Linked DNA regions of Homo sapiens: region 2 is linked to region 1. The links come from fine-mapping of genetic effects on gene expression. Tissue or cell type: whole blood. Region 1 holds a variant in brackets; the other region holds the start of a gene. All regions are shown on one strand. Distances are between the middles of the regions.

The links. PIP is the estimated chance that this variant, and not a neighbour inherited with it, causes the effect.
Region 2: it holds the start of DRICH1, and the variant in region 1 is fine-mapped to the expression of DRICH1 in whole blood (TOPMed, PIP above 0.99).

What each region holds. Positions count from the first base shown.
Region 1 is chr22:23,695,183-23,697,865 of GRCh38, forward strand. RGL4 (ral guanine nucleotide dissociation stimulator like 4) reads left to right here. Exons shown (of 11, transcript NM_153615.2): 7 at 1,432-1,506; 8 at 1,989-2,063; 9 at 2,656-2,679. It also overlaps the pseudogene GUSBP11. Among named protein-coding and RNA genes, the nearest start is that of RGL4, 5.5 kb to the left of the region's middle. RefSeq lists enhancers at 238-738, 1,473-1,552. The variant T/C (reference allele first, on the strand shown) is at 1,122.
Region 2 is chr22:23,631,088-23,633,770 of GRCh38, forward strand. DRICH1 (aspartate rich 1) reads right to left here and starts at 1,234. Exons shown (of 12, transcript NM_016449.4): 1 at 729-1,234. The coding sequence starts at 936. It overlaps LOC124905089 (a long non-coding RNA gene), which reads right to left. Exons shown (of 3, transcript XR_007068021.1): 3 at 1,789-1,823. RefSeq lists a silencer at 2,273-2,410.

The sequences.
Region 1 (2,683 bases):
CAGGAAGAGTGGTGTGTCGGTCCATGGGCACGTGGGGGCATGGGGGCAGGAGGCCCTGGAAATGGGATGTGGCAATGGCTGCTGGGCTGCTGGGCTGCTGAGCAGGGGTGATGAGCTGCAGCATTAGCAGGGCTCTGGCTCCCATGCTGGTCCATGCTGCTGGCATGGAGCTTCCTCCAGGCTGGAGGGTGATCATGGTAGGTGGGACTTCCTTCCTTCCTCAAACCGGCCAGCAATTCCTCAGGAAGCCAGGCCTCTGCTGCTGCTGCTGCTGCTGCTGCTGCTGCTGCTGCTGTCTGCAGCACACCTCCATGGGCAGGGGGCCTTGGCCTGCACTGGGGGAGAGGGGGAACAACAACAGAGGAAGCTCATGTGGCAGGGAGTCCAGTAACTGCCCAGCTTTGGGTACCAATGGGCATACTGGGGACAGACGTAGCTGTTTGCTGGGACTCCCCACTCTGCCCTTTGCAGACACCCAAAAACGGTCATGTCAGAGGATTCTCACCGGTTAGCAGCGACGCATGCTCATGACAAGTATCTGGGGGATTCATACATTGCTAGGGGATCCTCCCTGACCAGATCTCAGAATCGTCCATGCAAATGAGAAGGCAACATGTCACCCCACCCAGGACTCTGGAAAACCCTGCCATTGCAGTCAGAGATGGCGCATCAGGAGGCTACTTCCTCAGTGGAGAAAGAGAGAGTTCCGTGCACGGAACTCCCCTGGGGGATCATTGGCGAGGCGAAGCCTTTGGCATGGCTCAAACCCAGTTTGCGTGGCAGAGATTCCAGTGGGGCTGGGATAGGCAGGTGCCACTTAACCAGGTCTCCTAAAATGCCCTGTCCCTTTCCCATCACGACTGTATGTGGCTGGAGACCTAGACACTCAAAGACTCCAGAGAACACGACCCTGATGGGTGGTGGTGCTGGGATGTGAGCTGAAGGCAGCCGAGACGGAGCCTCCAGGAGCAGAAGGAGGCGTCCTCTCTTTGGGGGCCCTGGGGAGCCACTGCCCGCTCTGGGCCTCTGTTTCCTCATCTGGAAAATGAAGGGATGCTGAGCCTGTAGTGCAGGCCTCACAGGGTAGAAATGAAGTTCAAGAAAAGAAAGCAATTTGAGGG[T/C]GCTCGTGCCTGGTTCTTCCTCAGAGGGATGACGGTGAGAACAACGGCAACAGCTACAGGAAACTGAGCCCTCAGAGGCCCTGTGAGGTAGCTGTGGTTTGCATCACTCTTTACAGAAGAGGAAACAGTCTCAGGGAGGCCCGGCTGCAAGACTGGGTGACACACACAGGGAGTGTGGATCTGGGCCAGTGGTATGAGCACGGTGCCAGGTGGCTCCCGCCACTCCCTGGGGATCCAAGTGCGGGGTGGCTGGGGTGTAACTGGGGGAGAGGAGGAGAGCCTCACTGTCCCTGTCGCTGACACCTGGCAGGCGGGGAGCTTTAAGGTGGCCACCCAGGAGAGGAACCCCCAGAGAGTCCAGATGAGGCTGCGGAGGCAGAAGAAGGTGAGTGAGCCTGTGGCATGGACGGGCCGCAGGGGATCAGAGGACAGGGCTCCCTTCCCCGCCAGCTGGAGGCCTCCATATCAAGACAGCGGGGGCTTCCTCCCCAGCCCTGTCCTCCTGTGGCCACTGGGCCTGGAAAACCTTCATTTGAGAGACCAGAGGAAGGGTCTGGGAAAGCTGGACTCAGACTAGATGTGGGGAAGGGTAAAGCTGGGACCACAGGCCTTTGTGACTTGTTAAAATCCCACCATAGAGGTTAACAAGGAGTGCTTGCTAGACTTGGAGGTCAGCTGGGATACAGGAGGCAGAGAATTGGGAAAGGCAGCTGAGGGTCTTTGGCTGCTCCAACCGGGAGACCTGAGGAGGGGGCTCTGGGAGACAGGGGCTGATGGGATTTCATGGGACAGGACCTTGGGCAGGCACCTGAGGGCCAATACTCATCACCACTACCCCTCCCACCTCCCCACCCCTCCTTGGCACAGGGTGTGGTCCCCTTCCTGGGGGATTTTCTGACTGAGTTACAGAGGCTGGATTCGGCCATCCCGGACGACCTGGATGTGAGTGAGCCTGGGGCAGGGTGCTTGGGAACCAAGATCCTGAAGCTTGGGAGGAGAGGGTCCTGGACCGAGCCTTTAGATCTCAGCCCTTGGCAAACCTCCTCTCCTAAGAGCCTCACAGCTGCTCCTGTGGGTGGGGGTGTCAGGCCCATCTCATCACCTCTGAGTGATGGAGGCTCCATGGCAGCCACCAGGCCCTATTCCTGAGTGGTGAAGCTGCAGAGCTGCCTGACTGCAAAGCTGCTGAGGTGTGGGCTGAACTGGGCTCAGCTTCTCCCTAGGGTAGTCCCGTAATAGGAGGGTGAAATTGAGCCTCTCCAAGGGCAGGCAGTTCCAAGGTCACTGAGCGCTTTCTTTCTATGAGAGACCTCAGTTTCCCTGTCTGTCATCACAGAGGGTTGGGGCAGAAGGTCCCTGGGCCTCAGCTCCCATTCCCCCTGCTCTAGAGCCCGGAGCCTGAGGCAGGTCCAAGTCCTGTCGTGTGCACATCCCCTGACCCTGGTGGCCCTGGCAGTAGTGCAGCATGGGAAGGGGTGGGGTGGGGCTGGTTGTGGGCCAGGGGCCTTTCTGATGGACTCTGTCTGCCTTCCAGGGCAACACCAACAAGAGGAGCAAGGTGA
Region 2 (2,683 bases), 64 kb before region 1:
CCTGTACATCCTGCACATGTACCTCGGAACTTAAAAAAAATTAAATTAGGAGCCGGGCGCGATGCCTCATGCCTGTAATCACAGCACTTTGGGAGGCCGAGGCGGGCAGATCACCAGGTCAGGAGATCGAGACCATTCTGGCTAACACAGTGAAATCCCGTCTCTACTAAAAATACAAAAAATTAGCCGGGCGTGGTAGTGGGCACCTGTAGTCCCTACTCAGGAGGCTGATGCTAGAGAATCGCTTGAACCCAGGAGGCAGAGGTTGCAGTGAGCTGAGATCCCGCCACTGCACTCCAGCCTGGGCAACAGAGCAAGACTCCATCTAAAATAAATAAATAAATAAATAAATAAATAATAAATAAAATTTACAAAAAATAAGCTACCTTAAGAGATGGAAGAAAAACAATCTGACCCTTAGCTGGTTCCTTCATTTAGGTACCAAACCGGCCAGATAGGTGAGGCTAGAGAATGGGATGGGGACTCCAAAATTGGGGTATTTGAATTTTCATTGAGAAAAGGGCTCTCCCTTTTCTAGATCAAAAAGTCTCAACGACAAAGACAGGAGGCAGAGTCAGCCTTTGTCCCCCATGCCCAGACCTGGGAAAGCTGGCTATGGACAGGAGGGAGCTGGAAGCTGAGGATGTCTCTGGGGATGAGGGTAAGGGAAGGGGGTGGGGGTGGCCAGAGGTGTGCCAGAGGGTAAACGGCACCCGTGGCTTTTTTACCTGTGGGCATCTTTTGGTTGCTGATGTGCTGCAGGTCTTGGCCCTCCGTGGCTCCCACATCCAGCTTGCCAGGCTCTACAGTAGTGGATTCTGATGTTGCAGCAGCCACAGTCTCATAAATATCAGTATCAGATTCATAACAGGGTGCGTCCTTCCCCCTGGGCCAGCCACAGTGGGAGTTGATACAACAGGTCAGTATATTCCCCATGGGGCCTCTCCATGCCTCTCCACTCCTGCCTCAGCCTTCAGCGAAATTGTAACTGTGCTGCCCTAGCAGCCACACTACTGAGGGTGGCCCTGCACTTTTAGAAGCAGCCTGACCCCAGGCAGATCTGGGTCCTCAGCCCTTATTCTGCCGCCACCTCCCAAACTAGCTGGTCTATGAGGTCAGGGACCTGCTGTCTTCTTTGAAAAATAAACGAACATGACAAGCACCCAAAGGTGCAAAAACTGCCATCAAAGAGCACAGTTGGAGCTCCTCCTCCCTCCACTGCGAGCTACTGACTGAGGGCTGCTGGCCCTGGCTGATGCTTATAACCCACAAAGCTTCCTATGTCACCTGGTTACCAGGAAACAGCCAGGTCAGGCTAGTGACTCACAATGTCCAGCCCCACAGCCCCCCCCAATGCCTCATAATGCCTGTCCCTGCTGCTGCCCACCTTGTGGCCCCCCTGCCCCTCTGTGGGGACTGCACTACTCAGGCTTTTATTCACCCTATGCTGCCTGAGCTTTCCAGTCCTGAGCTAAGTGCAGGGGGAGTTGTTATTGCGAGTCACCCTTGGCAAGAAACTCAATAGAAAACCCTGGTATGGCCGGGAGTGGTGGCTCACGCCTGTAATCCTAGCACTTTGGGAGGCTGAGCGGGGGGGGTGGATCACTTGAGGTCAGGAGTTCAAGACCAGCCTGGCCAACATGGTGAAAACTTGTCTCTACTAAAAATACAAAATATTAGCTCGGCCTGGTGGCGGGCACCTGCAATCCTAGCTACTCAGGAGGCTGAGGCAGGAGAATCGCTTGAATCCAGGAGGCGGAGGTTGCACAGTGAGCCAAGATCACACCATTGCACTCCAGCCTGGGTGACAAAGGTGCAACTGTCTTTAAAAAAAAAAAAAAAAAAGAAACAAAAGAAAGAAAACCCCAGTTACTAAAGTCAGTTCCACCAGCAGTTCTGTTTTTCTGAGTCTGACAGCTTTCATTTGCTCACCAAATGTAGTTATACACAAATTTTTTACTGCTTTTCTAATTAAATGCTTCTCTCCTGTCTTACAAGTGTTAGTTCTTGTCTGCAACTTGACCATAGCTACCCCCAGGGCCCTGGTCCCACTCTCAATAGAGAGTTATGGCTGTGTATCCTCAGTGAAACCCTGGGACACATCACACTTCCCTCCTCGTCTATAAAATAGGGACTGAACACATCCTTCCCAGTTCTGTAATGCTACGACCTACCAACTCCCTTTTCTCGCTCTGTTTCTTCTTTCCATGGCAGGGGTATTCAGATATTTCTTTTATTTACTTATTTATTTATTTTTTGAGATGGACTATTGCTCTGTCGACCAGGCTGGAGTGCAGTGGCACGATCTCGGCTCACTGTAACCTCCACCTCCCAGGTTCAAGCGATTCTCCAGCCTCAGCCTCCTGAGTAGCCTGGACTACAGGCACACGCCACCGCATCTGGCTAATTTTTGTATTTCTAGTAGAGACGAGGGTTTCACCATGTTGGTCAGGCTGGTCTTGAACTCATCTCAGGTGATCCACCCGCCTCGTCCTCCCAAAGTGCTGGGATTACAGGCATGAACCACCATGCCCAGCCTCAGGTATTTCTTTTACTAACAAATCATAAAACATTATTTTCTTATACAAAATTGAGAACCCCACAGTGGGGTACCATTGTCCTCATAGGACAAAGACAAATAGTCAATATCTGGCAAGCATTATGTGCCTGACAGTGTTCCAAC